Regions from separate parts of the Homo sapiens genome. Here region 1 is linked to region 2. The links come from fine-mapping of genetic effects on gene expression. A gene starts in region 2. The other region holds a variant in brackets. All regions are shown on one strand. Distances are between the middles of the regions. Region 1 holds the start of IL18BP (interleukin 18 binding protein). Region 2 holds the start of NUMA1 (nuclear mitotic apparatus protein 1).

Region 1 (8,982 bases), 82 kb before region 2:
CTTTATATGGCTGAATAGTATTCCATTGTGTGTGACACCGCATTTGGTTTATTCATTCATCTGTGGATAGGCACTTGAGTTGTTTCCACTTTTTGGCTACTGTGAGTAACGCTGTGAGCACTGGCGTTTAAGTGTGTTTAGTCCCTAGTTTCATATCTTTTGGGTTTATACCGAGAATGGAATTGCTTGGTCATTTGGTAATTTTATGTTTAACTTTTTGAGGACATGCCAAACTCTTTGCTTTCTTAATTATGATAATGCTTAAGTGAATATCTGTATTCATGAAGCTTCTTTGACACTTCCTCTTTTTTTTTTTTTTTTTGAGATGGAGTCTCGGTCTGTTGCCCAGGCTGGAGTGCAGTGGTGCGATCTCGGCTCACTGCAAGCTCTGCCTCCCGGGTTCACGCCATTCTCCTGCCTCAGCCTCCTGAGTAGCTGGGACTACAGGCGCCCCCCACCATGCCTGGCTAATTTTTTGTATTTTTAGTAGAGACGGGGTTTCACTGTGTTAGTTAGGATGCTCTCGATCTCCTGACCTCGTGATCCGCCCTCCTTGGCCTCCCAAAGTGCTGGGGTTACAGGCGTCAGCCACCGCGCCCAGCCTCCTCTTATTTCTTTAAATTCCTTGAAGTGAAATTAATGGGTCAAAAGGTGCAACAATTTGAGATACCATGCTAAATCCTATCTGAAAGGCTTGAACCCCTTTTGCTGCTGCCACAAATGTCTGAGAATGCCCTTGTCACCAAACCAACATGGCACTTAATATTTCACTGTTTTAAATGTTGGAGAATATTGTTGTCCATTTCTGGTGGAACCATAGTCTGGCGACAGAATGGCTTGCCTGACACAGCTTTTGATCACCAGCCCCAAGTCCTTCTCCCTCCCCTTCCCCTTATCCTTTGGTGCTGATCCAGCCCAGTTTATAGGTTCTGTTACATCTAACTTCCCAACTGTCTCTAGTCTGGTCACTTCTCCCCATCTGCCCAGCAAAGATGAGGTCGATTTGACTTGTAAAAGATTACCTTTTCTAAACAGTTTAAAAAAAAAAAGATGTCCTCTAACTCTGGGCCTCCCGCTGCCACTGTGCCTCTTCTCTAGAAGGCCTGAGGTCTCTGTGGAGCTTCCTACTTTGGCTGCTTCTCACATCTTTTCCTATCTTTCCTTCCTGCTATTCTCCTTCAGTTCTACAGCGAGTCGGGCATGCCTACCAAACATCTTTCAGACAGTGTGTGTGCTGTGTGTGGGCAGCAGATCTTTGTGGACGTCAGTGAAGAGGGGATCATTGAGAACACGTATAGGCTGTCCTGCAATCATGTGTATCCTGCCTCGAGCTCCTGGGCCACATCTCTCCTGCAATCTGCACACTGTAGTGAGAGAGAGAAAGAGGGTGGTCATGACCCTAGGCATGCTGTCCAGACCCTTGAGTGTAGGAGAGCCACAAGAGGGCCACCTTCCCTACCCTTTCCCACAGATCAGAGCCACTCTTAGGTAAACAGTGGTTACAACCTGGCTGGGTCTGAGAGGAACCTGAGGCTGCAGCTAGTGAGGCTGTGCTAGCAGACCTGAGATCTGACCAGTCACAGGGGAAGAGGACCCTCTAATGGGATCCCTCAGTTTAGCATCATCCTCTGTTCTGAATAACACTTGTAATATTTATCATGTATTTACCCAGCTCCCATTCTCTGCCTATGTTGGGAAAGCCATGTATTGTCTCCATTTTGCCCCATAACAGTCTTGTGAGATAGGGATCATTATCCTTACTTCACATGTGAGGAAACAGGTTCAGACACAGGGACTTGCCCAACATTACAGAGCTGATAAAGAGCGAAGGCAGGATTTGAACCTTTCAAAGACTGTCTGGGGCTGGAGTGCCGCCCTGGCTCTCACCATTTCCCTTGACCAGCGGTGCTCAGCTTCCACGAGTTCTGCATCCGTGGCTGGTGCATCGTGGGAAAGAAGCAAACGTGTCCCTACTGCAAAGAGAAGGTAGACCTCAAGAGGATGTTCAGCAATCCGTATCCTTTATTGGGGTCGTTGTTGGGAGTGGGCTGTGGGAAGAAAGTACTGGCCAGTGTGACCTGCATTTGGGTCCTCCTGGGGCCCTCACTTCTGCCCCCAACCAGAACATGTCAAACCATGGTGGGAAGCTGAGCTGCTAGTCCTGCCCCCATGATACAACCCCAGTTTCCCTATTCTAGGATTATTGCCTATTCTCAGCCTCCTTGCAGCCATTGTCACGGATAGATAGACTTGTGTCAGCCTCAGGCTGTGTTATCTTACACTGGCAGTTCCTTCTTAGAGAAGGTGTTACAGGAGGCCCTCCCTGCATGTTAGTCATGGGGAACTAGGATTTATCTCTATACCTCTCTCAGGGCTGCCCTGCCTCCAGTACCAGTCCCCTCTATCTGCCTCCCACCTTCTCTGCATTCAGCTCTTTACCCCAACAGACAGGCTGTGAGGAGGAAGAGGAGGGGGAGGGCAAAGTTGGGAGGGCTGCCTGAGTAGGAAGTGAGGCTGGGCCCTTCCAGAAAGCAGCCTCCATTCCTCTAGGCTGTGGAGCAGCTGGAAAGTGGGGCAGACCCAGGGAGCCCCACCACCCATGCTAGATCACTCCTGGCAGCTCTTGCACAGAGTCTCTTTTCTTTAACACACTGACAGCTGGGAGAGGCCTCACGTCATGTATGGGCAACTGCTGGACTGGCTTCGATACTTGGTAGCCTGGCAGCCTGTCATCATTGGTGTAGTCCAAGGCATCAACTACATCCTGGGCCTGGAATAGTGATGAAGAGCATCAGTGGAAAACCCACCCCACACGCCATGGACCTCAGGGCACTCTCCTCCCTGCCCACAAAGACCTCCTGGGTGGGAAAGACTCAAAGGGGTGCTTGGGCCACTCAGGACCCCTCTGGCTGTGTCGGACTGGGGAGGGATATGATGGAGAGCCAGCCAGTGGGGCTGTCAGCAGTGGGGGGCTTTTTAAAAGAAAACTATTTTGATGAATATATTTAAAAAACCTTTTTTTATTGTGGAGCATAGGAATTGCCCCCCTCCAGGCTTCACCCTCCCTGCCTAAGCAGGGTGGGGGCAGAGCCATGACATTTTTGGTTTAAAGGAGCCTTCTCATCTCTGGCCGAGAACACTGCTGGGCTCCCAGGTAGCTGAAGGCCTCAGCCCACCCACTCCCTTCTTCCCTGTGTGGGGCTCAAGCCTGGTGCACTTAGTATAGAAGAGCTAACGTACTCAGGCTTGTGCCACGGGTGAGCACTGAGGCCCCAGGTGTCCTCCCTCCCCCACTGTCTGGGACACAGGACAGGTGTTGCGTCTGACTCTGTCTCCCCCTGTCCAAGAGCTATAGGCTGGTTGAGGCAAGTGGAACCTTATCAGTGACTTGGCCAACAAGGGAAGCCTTGGGGCCTCAGAATTCATTGAAGATTTGTTTTGGGACAACTGGAAGAATCAGCACCATGGATACTCGCCCGTGGGCAGGGCTGTGGTCAGCCAAGAATAGAGGTCATATAGTTGGGCCATGGGGCAATTGTTGGCAGCCATGACTGACGGCCCCTTGTGCAAGCTCATTCTTCAGTGGATCCTTCAGTGGAGTGGTGACACGTGCCAGCGGTCACTCTGCCACATCACTTCCTTCTTGAAAGCCTAAGAGTGCGTATGCGTGTGTGTGTGTGTGTGTGTGTGTACGTGAGGCAGAAGAATATGACAGATGTCAGCTTCTCCCTGTGTCAGATGATATGTCCTTGAAGCTGGCAGGGGATTCCCAGTCCAGGGAATATCCCTACATGATTTTTGTCATTCATGGGTCCTCCCTGGGCCTGACAACGGGAGTGGTGGGTGGGTGAGAACAGGTTCTGAGAGGGGGCTTCTAGGAAGGCCCCAGCCCTAGTCCTAGGCGACTTGAATAAAGTGGGAGGTCAAACATGGGCCTTCGGCATTGGGTTTCTAGGGAATATGGCTCAGTAGGGCCTGCCCCTTCAAGGGCAGCAAGAACGAAGCAGGATGTTGTCACTCCCGTCTGAATAAAGCTCCATGAGCTGGGTTGGAAAGCTGAACATTTATCTTGCTTTCTTCTTCCCACCTCTTTCCCTGGGGTCCCCAGGGGTGTCTTGCCTTTGTTAACCCCCATCGGAGACCTGAGGGTCTGGGGGTGGTTGGGCCTGCCTTTCTGCTGTTCCCAGCTGTTCCCCTGCTGACATCCCTAGGAGTGGTGGAATGCCAGGCTCCTGTCCTGTGGCCTGGGGGCCTGGGGCATCATTGGGCCTGCCTTCAGACTGAGGTTGCTCTATGTTCTCACTGCCTGAGGACAGTGTCCCGCCACCACCTGCCTTCCTGAGGACCACACTCAGGCTCGGCTTCTCTTCCCCAGCTGTGGCTTCCCATGGTACCCTGCTGCTTATGCCACCTGTGGGGCTGTTCCCCTCCTCAGAGAGGGGAATGGGGCTGGTCAGAGGACCTAGGGATCACCCTTCCTTTTACTTTTTCCCCCCACCCCCCTGTCAGGCTCAGGTGAGAAGCCGAGGCCAGGCTGTCCAAAGCTCTTTTCATGTGTAACAGTTCTGAGTCCCTTGACCTCCCCCCTTGGCCTGACTCTGGTCTCGGTTCCACTAAGACAGAGTCCTGTCATCTTTCCCTACCATCCCCCACTGGACTGTCTCTCTCAGAAACCCCAGGCAGCCTTGCCTCCTGACCTAACTCCTGGAGATGCTGGTGTTCTTGGGAGGAATTTCTCCTGCATCTTACATGCTAGAAGCCCCTGGGGCAGGAGGTAGGGGGAGGAATTGAGAGGAGGAAAAACATGAACTAGACACCTAGAGAAGAAGGATGTGACTTGTAGTATCCTATGTCTAAATTAGGAATATGAATCTGGTTTTTCTACAAGAAGTTTGAGATCACAGCTGACTGTGTTCCTGATGCATCCACCAAACCCAGTTCCATCTGTGGGCCTCCCTGGCTCTGTCACCAGCCGTTGCACCCTCCCAATCACAGGAGTCACAAACCTCAGACATGCAGCTCCTGTCCACACTTAATATATGCATGCATTGGATCACCCAGCCCTGGTCTTTCTGCCTCCATGGATAACTGCATGACCCTGAGAGAAAACCTCCTTAGATTTAGCATCCTAGGTTCCTCAC[A/C]CGCCTCACCCTGAATCCTGGCCCTCCCGCAGCCCCAGCGCCATTTGTCCCATCAGTGACAAGATTCATATTCTGATGTAGACTCTGTTGCCAGAGCCAGTGTTGAGCCAGTCCGCCTCTTCCCCGGGAAGTGCCTGCCCTTCCCTCCTGTTAGGGTTGGCTCTCGAGCTTGTGTGCCAGTTCCTGGGTTGGCCGTGAGAGTTCTACAGACAAGGAGGAAGTGCTCTCGGTGTATTTCCTGTGGTGGGTTCACACGCAGCTAGACACAGCTAACTTGAGTCTTGGAGCTCCTAGAGGGAAGCTTCTGGAAAGGAAGGCTCTTCAGGACCTCTTAGGAGCCAGGTAGGAGTCTGGGACTACTAGTGAACCTAGACCTGTGGCTCTGGCCAGAGGGGCTAGGATGAGAGACAGAGGGTGTGATGGTGGGTGCTGGGAGATGTAGCCGACCTTGGGGCTGGTGGCTGGGGGAGTGGGTAGCCTGGGAAAGGCCAGGATGTGGACGGACTGGTATGGCATTGAGCCTGAAGTGGTCCAACTTGGGGTTCCCCAGTGCCTAGGAAAGTTGTCCCCTTGAATGTCAGTGTGAAGGTGAAGGAGGAAGCAGATGCCTGTTCATATGGAAACAAAGACCTGGCTGTGAAGAGGGGAGGCGGACACCAAAGTCCTGACACTTGGGCGGGACAGAATTGATCTGTGAGAGACTCATCTAGTTCATACCCTAGGTGACCCTGGGGGTGGCATGGGGGTAGATTAGAGATCCCAGTCTGGTATCCTCTGGAGAGTAGGAGTCCCAGGAGCTGAAGGTTTCTGGCCACTGAACTTTGGCTAAAGCAGAGGTGTCACAGCTGCTCAAGATTCCCTGGTTAAAAAGTGAAAGTGAAATAGAGGGTCGGGGCAGTGCTTTCCCAGAAGGATTGCTCGGCATCCTGCCCTTCCCAGAAGCAGCTCTGGTGCTGAAGAGAGCACTGCCTCCCTGTGTGACTGGGTGAGTCCATATTCTCTCTTTGGGTCTCAATTTTGCCTTCCCTAATGAAGGGGTAAGATTGGACTAGGTAAGCATCTTACAACCATTTGTGGTCATGAGAGCTGGGGTGGGGAAGGATTGTCACTTGACCCCCCCAGCTCTGTTTCTAAGTGCTGAAAGAGCTCCAGGCTATGCTACGGGAGGAGAAGCCAGCTACTGAGGAAAAGCCAGCTACTGAGAAAAAGCGGGAGTGGTTTACCATTCTCCTCCCCCACCTTTCACCAGAGAAGAGGACGTTGTCACAGATAAAGAGCCAGGCTCACCAGCTCCTGACGCATGCATCATGACCATGAGACACAACTGGACACCAGGTAGGCCTTGGGGCTACGCATGGGCAGGCGGGGTAGGGTGAGGTCTATGAACAGAATGGAGCAATGGGCTAACCCGGAGCCTTCACTCCAAGGCAAACCACCCAGCGCACCTGGTGCTGTTGCTTTAAGAACCTGGGCAGATATTGTAGCTCTGGCTCCAGTCTAAAGCTTCTCTGTACTCTGTTCAATAAAGGGCTAAGGGGTGGGTGCTGAGGGGTCCCTCTTCCCGCTCTGATTCCCTGGCTAGAACCCAGACATCTCTGGGCTGGAGTTACATCCTTACCCGGGCAGCCCACTCTGTCTCCAGAGCCGCTGACCTGTAACTGTCCTTTCCTCAGACCTCAGCCCTTTGTGGGTCCTGCTCCTGTGTGCCCACGTCGTCACTCTCCTGGTCAGAGCCACACCTGTCTCGCAGACCACCACAGCTGCCACTGCCTCAGTTAGAAGCACAAAGGACCCCTGCCCCTCCCAGCCCCCAGTGTTCCCAGCAGCTAAGCAGTGTCCAGCATTGGAAGTGACCTGGCCAGAGGTGGAAGTGCCACTGAGTAAGAAGCACAGTGGTGGAGGGTGGGCTATGGGCACAGAGGTTCCCAGGGTCGGGTTGACTCCTGAGCGCCAGTCCCCTTCTGCCCATGTACCACCAGCTGAGCCAGCTGGGCTGAGCACGCACCATTCTCCCTCCCCAACCCAGTGTCATGGGTGCAGGCTTGGCGCAGCTCCCAAGATGCTCCCTATCAAATAGGACAGAGAACTCAAGACATAAGTAATGGTCACAGGACCTCCCAGAGCCTTGGTTGCAGTGGACCCCAAGGCCAGCCCCTCCACCCAGAGCCTGCTGGCCTCTGGCCATCTCAGAGGAGCAGCAGCCATCCAGCACTGCCTTTGTCACCTGGGCTCCCAAGTCACCGAGGCTGGGCACTAGAAAAGGTCATCCTGAGGAGACAGGTTCAGAAGAGGATTCATCACGTGAACCAAGGACCATTCCTCACATTCCCCGTGTTTAGGGCTAGGGCCTCTCGGAGACAACTGCACTTCTGTAACGGACGTTCCCACCTAGGTGGTGTGCAGAGCAGTTCTCTAGGTTCCAGATGCATGGGGACTGGGGGGAGCTGGCAGGGAGGGCACAGCAGAGCAGGGTAGGGGAAGGGCCTGCTCTTCTGAAGAGCTAACTGCTGCCTGTGTCCCTAGATGGAACGCTGAGCTTATCCTGTGTGGCCTGCAGCCGCTTCCCCAACTTCAGCATCCTCTACTGGCTGGGCAATGGTTCCTTCATTGAGCACCTCCCAGGCCGACTGTGGGAGGGGAGCACCAGGTGAGGGTCGCAGCAGCCAGGTGGGTGGGAAGGAGGCCTTCTGCGGCCTTCTCATGACCTTTCCTTCCCTTCCGCTCCAGCCGGGAACGTGGGAGCACAGGTACGCAGCTGTGCAAGGCCTTGGTGCTGGAGCAGCTGACCCCTGCCCTGCACAGCACCAACTTCTCCTGTGTGCTCGTGGACCCTGAACAGGTTGTCCAGCGTCACGTCGTCCTGGCCCAGCTCTGGGTGAGGAGCCCAAGGAGAGGCCTCCAGGAACAGGAGGAGCTCTGCTTCCATATGTGGGGAGGAAAGGGTGGGCTCTGCCAGAGCAGCCTGTGAACTAATGCCCAGCATTCCTCAAGGTCAGCCAGACAAAAAGGAACTTAGGTCTTGGGCAGAGGAGGTGTAGCCTGGGGCAAAGTGATGAGATGTCCCTCCTTTCCTTGGCCTGATCCTTGTCTGCCTTCACTTCCCTAGGCTGGGCTGAGGGCAACCTTGCCCCCCACCCAAGAAGCCCTGCCCTCCAGCCACAGCAGTCCACAGCAGCAGGGTTAAGACTCAGCACAGGGCCAGCAGCAGCACAACCTTGACCAGAGCTTGGGTCCTACCTGTCTACCTGGAGTGAACAGTCCCTGACTGCCTGTAGGCTGCGTGGATGCGCAACACACCCCCTCCTTCTCTGCTTTGGGTCCCTTCTCTCACCAAATTCAAACTCCATTCCCACCTACCTAGAAAATCACAGCCTCCTTATAATGCCTCCTCCTCCTGCCATTCTCTCTCCACCTATCCATTAGCCTTCCTAACGTCCTACTCCTCACACTGCTCTACTGCTCAGAAACCACCAAGACTGTTGATGCCTTAGCCTTGCACTCCAGGGCCCTACCTGCATTTCCCACATGACTTTCTGGAAGCCTCCCAACTATTCTTGCTTTTCCCAGACAGCTCCCACTCCCATGTCTCTGCTCATTTAGTCCCGTCTTCCTCACCGCCCCAGCAGGGGAACGCTCAAGCCTGGTTGAAATGCTGCCTCTTCAGTGAAGTCATCCTCTTTCAGCTCTGGCCGCATTCTGCAGACTTCCTATCTTCGTGCTGTATGTTTTTTTTTTCCCCCTTCACTCTAATGGACTGTTCCAGGGAAGGGATGGGGGCAGCAGCTGCTTCGGATCCACACTGTATCTGTGTCATCCCCACATGGGTCCTCATAAAGGATTA
Region 2 (8,982 bases):
TTCTTTATGCAGTTATTATATTGAAGTTACTTTAATATTCCCTTTCTGCTTTTTCAGCCCTCCACCAAGGGTTTAAATCAATCTCCTTTATGGAGTTCACTCTATTGTGTGGTTTCTGTTTTGCTGATTGGATCTGAACTGACATATAGATAAACTGAGCTCTCAAGAAAGTAAGAAAAATCCCCAGGAACCAGAAACAAATTAGTGAGGAGGATTAGCGAGCTGATGACATAGCTGTCCTAGCCGTGTATGGAATTTGTAACACCCTCATAGGTTCAGAAGACAGATCTTGAGTCCACAAAAGGCACTGAGATCCCTGTGCAGAGGCTGAGATTCTTAAGTTTATACTCAGTAAGATAATAGACTAGGAAAAAAAATCTGTCCAGAGAGAAATAAAAAACTTGCCTTGCTCACCTAGTGAGAAAGGAGGGAAAAACCGTCTAGGAATTCAAAACAGGCTGGGTGAAGTGGCTCACGCCAGTAATCCCAGCACATTGGGAGGCTGAGGTGGGTGGATTGCTTGAGCCCAGGAGTTCGAGACCAGCCCGGGCAACATGGCAAAACCCTGTCTCTACAGAAAATATAAAAATTTGCCGGGTATGGTGGTGTGCACCTGTAGTCCCAGCTACTTGGGAGGCTGAGGTGGGCGGACTGCTTGAGCCCAGGAGGCAGAGGTTGCAGTGAGCCAAGATCCTGCAACTGCACTCCAACCTGGGCAACAAAGCCAGACAGATCCTATCTCAAAAAATAAAATAAAATAAAATAAAATTCTAGGAAGCAGACATTAATATGTAGTGAAAAACAAACAAACGATCAGTGGTTCCTGGTATCAGGGTGAAAGGAAAAACGGACTGTAAAGAAGTATGAGAGCCGGGCACGGTGGCTCACGCCTGTAATCCCAGCACTTTGGGAGGCCGAGGAGGGCAGATTACCTGAGGTTGGCAGTTCAAGATCAGCCTGACCAACATGGTGAAACCCCATTTCTATTAAAAATACAAAATTAGCTGGGCATGGTGGTGCATGCCTGTAATCCCAGCTACTCAGGAGGCTGAGGCAGGAGAATCGCTTGAACCCAGGAGGCAGAGGTTGCAGGGAGCCGAGATTGCACCACTGGACTCCAGCCTGGAGAATAAGAGTAAAATCCATCTTAAAAAAAAAAAAGCATGAGAAATCTTTTGGGGGTGAGAGAAATCCTCTGTATCTTGATTATGGCTGCTGTTTACAGGTGTAGACATCTGCCAAAACTCAACTTTCTTGAAAATTATTACAGACACAAAATTGAAAACATGAGACAAAAACAAGATCACGAAAAACAAGCAGATTTGAAAATGAACCAAAGAGCACTTCTAATAAATGAAAAAGTTAGCTAATAAAAATAAGAATTCAAAAAACAAATTAGACCTAGCTGAAGAGTAAACTAGTATACTAGAAGATAGATATAAGGAAATTATCCAGAAGTTAACACAGAAAGATAGAAATGGAAATTATGAAAGAAAGAATAAGATGTAGACGACAGAATGAGGAAGTTCAACATAAGTTACGCATGAGATCTGAGAGAGGTAAAGAGGTAATGATTGGGAATTTTTACACAATTAGTGAAAAGATATGAAATTTCAGATTAAGGAATTACTATATGCCCCCAGTATATAGTGATTTAAGAAAATTAAATTCACACCATGTAATGGAAGTACAGAACACAAATGACAGCAAAGAAGATCTTAAAAACAAACAGAAAGAAAGACAGGTTACCCACAATAAAATAAGTTAATTTGCAAGCATAGTTCTCAAGAGTAACAACAAAAAGCCAGAATTTCAATGAAAAAACACTTTCAAAGTGCTAAGAGACAATAATTGGAAGCCTAGTACCCAGCTAAACTACCAATCAAGACTGAAAGTGAGCTGGGCACAGTGGCTCATGCCTATAATCCCAGCACTCTGAGAGGCCGAGGCGGGAGGATCACAAGGTCAGGGGATCGAGACCATCATGGCTAACACAATGAAACCCTGTCTCTACTAAAAATACAAAAAATTAGCCAGGCGTGGTTGCGGGCGCCTGTAGTCCCAGCTACTCGGGAGGCTGAGGCAGGAGAATGGTGTGAACCTGGGAGGCGGAGCTTGCAGTGAGCCGAGACTGTGCCACTGCACTCCAGCCTGGGCAACAGAGTGAGACTCCATCTCAAAAAAAAAAAAAAAACAAAAAACTGAAAGTGAAATAAAGATTTTTTAAATGAAGACAGTGTTTACCACTAACAGATTCCCACTGGACAAACATCTGAAGGATGTATGTATCTATGCAATAAAAAAGGAAGGAATAAAATGCAAGGAAAAATAGTGAAAAAGCAAACAGTAGACATACATGGGTAAAATGAAATAATCACTAACAATACAAAACAATAAACATATTTTAATTGTGTTGGGGTCTCACTCTGTTGCCCAGGCTAGCTAAGAACTCCTGGGCTCAAGCCATTCTCCCGCCTGCTCCTCCTGCCTCAGCCTCCAGAGTAGTTGGGATGACAGGGCAAGCCACCATGCCCAGCTACAAAATAATAATTATCAATTAGAATTGTTCAGCTTAGAGATGGATTGACTTTGGGAATGATCTCATTCTAGAAAGTACTCATTTTGAGTCTGGACAACACCTTTTGGTATGTTTAGTGTACACTGGGTAAGAGGCTAAATTAAATGACCACACCATATATTAGGTTAATGCAAAAGTAACTGTGGTTTTTGCCATTACTTTCAATGGCAATAACTGCAATTACTTTTGCACAAACCTAATATCTTCTGATCATAGTTTTATCAATTAGACACAGCTGTCCAAACAGCCCCTGATCAGCTCTGTTCAGCCACCTGAGCAGGGCTTTGCCCTCATCCTAAAAGTTCTAGAATTCAAGTCTTATTTCAAGGCATTCTTCCCACTTCCATGTTCCACATGTAAAAAAGAATTCTACGTTTCTTAACGAGCTTTCAGGTAAGATCTTTAAGCTTTTGGAATGTACCGCTTTTCGCTGTGAACTAAGAGCTTAGACATTACAATTAGTCATCCCTTGCTAGAACTTAGGCTACGAAAAGAATACTTTGGAAGCTTTCACAAAAAAGTATGTGGTTCTTCCTCTAAAGAAGAAAATACCACACAGAAAGAGGGACTGAGGAAACATAAACCCATCTGTGCTGACAGAAAGCTACCTTACATGATCCTCATGTTCGCCCCAGGTTCCCATATATTCACAGCAGTAAAGATCTCCACAAAGCAGAGAGGCCCAACTCCCTTACCATTAAAGCTTTAACGACCAGACAACCCAGAAGTTTGGAAACATAGAACCAGGCAACAGATACTAGAGAGAGGGAATTATGTATTAAAGCAAGAAAATATCATCACGTTTTCAAGAGGGAGTGCCATTCCAGTAAAGAGGACAGCTTAATACTGAGGTTCAAATGCCACTAAATGAAAACGGGAAAGCGAAATTCCTGTGCCCTTTCAGCCCAAGAAATTATTCCAAAGCATACATTTATTCCCATTACATGTCGCAAATCCTGCCTAGCCATTAGGATACAGTGACGAAAAAGTCTCTCGTTATCTAGAAGGGCAGACAAACACGCAGACTTTTAAAATACCAGATGGCAGGCCGGGCGTGATGGCTCACGCCTGTAATCCCAAGCACTTTGGGAAGCCGAGGCGGGCGGATCACGAGGTCAAGAGTTCAAGACCGGCCTGGCCAAGATGGTGAAACCCTGTGTCTACTAAAAATACAAAAGTTAGCCGGGTGTGGTAGCGGGCGCCTGTAATCCCAGCTACTCGGGAGGCTGAGGCAGGGAACTGTTTGAACCCGGGTGGCAGAGGTTGCAGTGAGCCGAGATCGCGCCACTGCACTCCGGCCTGGGCGATAGGGCGAGACTCCGTCTCAAAAAAAAAAAAAAATGACAAGTGCTAACTCAGAGGTAAGCAAAAGAGAGTACCCAGAGGCGGCAGCATCAACCCAGTGGGCTCCCGCCCACCCACAATCTTCACACAGTCACACCACTTATAGTCATAAATTTGTACTCTCCGAGGTGCGTGTATGAAACATGTTATCTGTGAGAGTCCATGGATGAAAAACAAAAACAAACAAAAATTAAAAAAAAAAAAAAAAAAGACTTAACCTGTTTTGACCAGGACAACCACCCCAGGAAGTAGGTAAGGCAGGTAAGGTCATTGTTTACATATATGAAAAGTGAGGCTCAAAATACACTGACCAGTCCAAGACAACGCGCGCCCCCACAAAGCACCTTCCCCGTCCCCATTTATGCCCAACCCATAAACCCAAAGTAGAGCCAACCTCGCACTGGCTACGTAACCCGGGCCAAGCTAAACATTATAAACCTCAGGCTCCCCATCTTTAAAGTATAACAGGTGGTTAGAAGATTAAAAAGATAAACATTTGGCAGGTCATTGTGGACGGTGTAGCTCAGAAAATGCTGACTACTGCACTACCATAACTACTGCTATTGTTAACGATAAAAGGCAAAGACTTTCCAGGACCCGACCCCTCGCTTACAAGCCTTTCGGGAACTTGCCCTATACCCCCGACCCCAGTCACCTTCAGATTTAATTCCACAGACACGCCCCCAAACAGACCCTCCCCTTTAAGGCACCCCCCCCCCCCCCGGCTCCTCCCTCTCAGGCGCCTCTCCTCACAAACCTTACCCCCATAGATTCTGCCCTTTCGGACTCGGTTATGGAGGAGGCCTTCCGCTCGCAGCGGCCTCTCCAGCACCCCTTTTAGGCCTGAGCACCCGCAGGGGTGCCCAGGCCGCACGCCAAACGCGGGCCCGCGCCGGTTACCTGGCTGCGCGCTCCCGCTCTGCCTCGCGATTCTCCGGAATCGTACCTCTTCGTGGGCTCGCGCCAGCGCTGTGAGCGCACAATTAGTTTAAACTATGGCCCCGCCCCCTCGCGCTGCCCTCTGATTGGCCTCTGTCGGCGGGGCCCGCTTAAGGACCCGGGAAAAGGAAGTTTGAGGGCCACTGGGAAAGAGAAGGGGTATCACCGCTTCCGGACCCCGGCCTGTACTTGAAGGCAAAGAGAACTACAAATCCCAGCGTCACCCGCGGCCTTGAAGCCCCGCCCCTGACAAACTGAAGGTCCCGGTAAGCATCGCGTCAGTACTTATGGCGCCTGCCGGGTTGTGGTGACGAAAGCAGTTGCCATGGAGTTGCTCTGAGTAACCCTGAGGCAGTGGGACGCCAAGACTGGAGAGGAAGCGACTGCGGGTGAGTCGGGCGGGAAAACAGGAAACCCGTTCTAGGGGACAAGAGATCTATGGAGAAGGGAGGGGCACTCACAGAACGACTAAGAACCTTCCTGCTCGGGGATCTGAGATTTCCCCCACCGACCCTCATCACCTTTCACAGCGAACAAGATACAACACTCACATGGGACAGACTGGGCGAGGGGGAGCAGAGGGAGGGATAGGCGTTGAGATATATATCCATACAGATTTGGGGATGCTTAAGAACCACCCCCAGGGCCGGGAGCGGTGGCTCACGCCTGTAATCCCAACACTGGGAGACCAAGGCGGGCGGACCACTTAAGGCCAGGAGTTCGAGACCAGCCTGAGAAACATGGCGAACCCTGTCTCTACCAAAAACATAAAAAAATTAGCCGGGCTTGGTGGCGCGCTCCAGTGGCCCCAGCTACTAGGGAGGCTGAGGTAGAAGGATCGCTTGAGCCCGGAGATTGAAGCTGCAGTGAGCCGTGATCACGCAACTACACTCCAGCCTGGGCTATAGAGCGATACCTCCATCTCAAAACAAAACAAAACGAAACAAAACAAAAACAAAACAAAACAACGAACCCCGCCCCCAACGCAAACATAAAGCTCCCAAAATCGGATGCTTCAAGTTCCAGGCATAACCTGGGAGATCAGAAACGCCCTCAGAAATGGGGTTGGTTTTCCTCTGAGGAACTGAGACCCTCTTCCAAGACATGCGGTTAGCATTAGATTGAGTAAATCGCAGTCGCTACCCTAATTCTAGAGATGTAGGAAACTTCCTGGGGCGTGAAGTGCCTCATTCCTTCTTCTTCCAAGGAGTAAAACCCCTTCTCAATCTGTCCCCAGATTCCCTTTTCTCCCCACACCTTCTCCGTGGTCCGCTACTCAAAGCTCTACAGTTAGAGCTTCATTTTTTTTAGTACTCACGACAGATCTATTACATTTAGTAACCTACCCAGTGCTTTCACAGTCTCTCTTTTGATACTCTTAACAGCTCTGTGAGTCAAGGATATTTATCTTCATTTCACAGATTGGAAAACTGAAACCCAGAGAAAAGGGACTTGCCCAAGGCCACACACCAAATTAGTGACAGAGCTAGAACTAGACTCCAGTTCTCCGACTTCCAGCTAAGTCTCTTTAGCTTCAGCCTACTGCCTCTATAGCGGAAGGACTTGTTCCAAGGAACAAGTTAAACTGCCCCAGGGAAAAGGAACCTGTGTGGCCTACTTTGTATTATTTACACTTCAGCTGGAATGAATTTCAGATCCTCCCCTGAAACTTTTAATGGGGAAAAGGAACTAGAGAGACTAAGACAATGAGACTTGAACATTTTTAACTAAACAGGAAACAGAAGGGCTAACACAGCACCCATGTCTGAAGTGACCATGATTAGCTGGTTTCTAGCTGGTGACTAGCTGGCCCTGACTGGTCCACTTACTACCTTAAAGTTCTCCCAGGTTTGGTCCTACGCCCTCTTGCCACTGCACTCTATATTCTCTTCTTGGGTACCCCTCCACACCCACAACTTCATTTTCCACCTGTATGCAAATGTACACAAGTGTGTATCTCAAGCCCAGCCCTCATCTCTAAGCTCCAGATCTATATAGCCAATTGCCTCAACATCTCCTTTAGGATACCTCAAAGGCAACCCAAACTCTACATTTCTGAAATTGAAACAATCTCTGTGTATCCCAACCTTTTCCTCCAAGCCTGGATCTCTTCCAGTGCTCCTACCTTTATCCACAATATACCCAAGCCCAAAACCCAAGTTAGTACCTCTTCCATTTACTTAATACCTCTTCCATTTCCCATCTATCACTAAGTCTTATCAGCTTTACTTCCTGAATATCTTTTATATAGGTCCTAGCTACCATCACATCCTTCCTGCCTTCCCTCCCAGCCATATTTGCGCACTGCAACCAGAGTGATCCTTCAAAATGCAAAGCTGATACTGTTCACTCTCTACCCCACCCCCAATTTTTTTTTTTTCTTTTTGAGACAGAGTTTCGCTCTTGCTGCCCAGGCTGGAGTGCAATGGCGCAATCTCGGCTCACAGCAACCTCCACCTCCCGGTTTCAAGCAATTCTCCTGTCTCAGCCTCCCAGGTAACTGGGATTACAGGCATGCGCCACCACACCCGGCTAATTTTATATTTTTAGTAGAGACGGGGTTTCTCCATGTTGGTCAGGCTGGTCTCGAACTCCCGACCTCAGGTGATCTGCCCACCTTGGCCTCCCAAAGTGCTGAGATTACAGGCGTGAGCCGCCACGCCCAGCCAGCCCCCATTTAATATTAATACTATGTGGTTTCCTATTGCTCCCATCTCTCCAGCCTCCAGTCTAACCATACATATTCATCCTTCTCTCCCCTTCAGTTATATAACCTTTAAGGTCTTCAAAATTTCCAAGTACCCTTCCACCATAGAACCTTTGCATATAGCAGTCACATCTGCCTGGAATGCTCATTCCACACCACCCCCTACCCCATAAGTTAATTTGTACTTATCCTTTAGATTTCTCTCAGTCACTTCTTCAGGAATGTCTTCCTGTAGACTGTTCAGACCAGGTCAGATCCCTCAATTACAGCAACCTCATGGCCCTCTCCTTTGTAGTATTATTTAGTTGCAATTTTTAATGTGTTTGTTAAGCACCTACTACTTGCCGGCACTATGAGATACAACTGTAAGAAAAAATATGGTTTCTGCCCTGCTGGTGTTTATGGACATACAGATAGTAAGCAGATAATTACAGTGTTACGAGTGCTACCATGGCAATCATAGCACTACAATTACAGATTTGAGGATAAAGGTAGACTTCTCAGAAAAGTTGAAACCTGATCTGAGCCCTGAAATAAGAATTAGCAAAGCAAAAGGAGGAGAGAAAAACTATATTCCAAGCAGACAGAGCTGGAAGGAGACACTGTTCCACTTAGAGGCCCAGTGGCAGGTGCAGGGAACTTATGGTGAGTGGTTGCATTTGGCTAGACTGCAGAATTGGAGTTGAGGATGAGATGGTAGTAGAGGGGGGTGGACAGGAGCCAGGTTGAATCTTGGTCCTCCTTTTGGCACCTGGGAATATAACCTCCCAGAATATATTAGATTATGTGGCAGATTTTTCTTCTTTTTCTTTTGACAGGGTCTCGCTCTGTTGCCCAGACTGGAGTGCAGTGGCACAGTCATAGCTCACTGCAGCCTCGAACTCCTGGGCTTGAGCCATACTCCTACCTCAGCTTCCCAAGTAGCTGGGACTATAGGCGTGAGCTGCCATGCCTGGCTAAATATGTGGCAGATTTTTCATAGCAGCCTTTGATTTTTTTTCCACCATCAGTCCATCATCAGAAACTCTCGGGCCAGGCTGTTGAATCTCCTATCAGATTTATGTGATTATTCCTCAAAGCTTCCTGTGTTATCATGTTGCAACTTGCCTGAGAGAGGGCAGGAATAGGCTAGCAACAAATCAAATTCCAAATGTTAGTAATTTCCCAAAACTGAAAACAGTTTTCTGTCAACTTGGGATTGGTTAAATAAATTAAGTGAATAACATTAAAGTACGATACATAGTATAAAATACTTTGCAACTATTAAAAAGGGTAATAGTCTACAACAATTTGAAAATTAAAAAATAGGTTTACAAAGGAATATTGTTTATTTAAAAATATACATAATCTAGGCTGGGCACAGTGGCTTACACCTGTAATCCCAGCACTTTGGGAGGCCAAGGTGAGTGAATAG

Evidence for each region.
Region 1: its variant is fine-mapped to the expression of NUMA1 in whole blood (TOPMed, PIP above 0.99).

The regions. Positions count from the first base shown.
Region 1 is chr11:71,993,537-72,002,518 of GRCh38, forward strand. It overlaps RNF121 (ring finger protein 121), which reads left to right. Exons shown (of 9, transcript NM_018320.5): 7 at 1,183-1,316; 8 at 1,914-2,015; 9 at 2,659-4,061. The coding sequence ends at 2,779. It overlaps IL18BP (interleukin 18 binding protein), which reads left to right and starts at 5,373. Exons shown (of 6, transcript NM_001039660.2): 1 at 5,373-5,483; 2 at 6,391-6,476; 3 at 6,815-7,021; 4 at 7,665-7,788; 5 at 7,869-8,016; 6 at 8,248-8,982. The coding sequence starts at 6,449. The coding sequence ends at 8,325. The variant A/C (reference allele first, on the strand shown) is at 5,142.
Region 2 is chr11:72,075,636-72,084,617 of GRCh38, forward strand. NUMA1 (nuclear mitotic apparatus protein 1) reads right to left here and starts at 4,907. Exons shown (of 27, transcript NM_006185.4): 1 at 4,823-4,907. LRTOMT (leucine rich transmembrane and O-methyltransferase domain containing) reads left to right here and starts at 5,215. Exons shown (of 9, transcript NM_001145310.4): 1 at 5,215-5,250. LRRC51 (leucine rich repeat containing 51) reads left to right here and starts at 5,215. Exons shown (of 6, transcript NM_145309.6): 1 at 5,215-5,250. RefSeq lists enhancers at 4,318-5,273, 4,993-5,262, 5,274-6,228.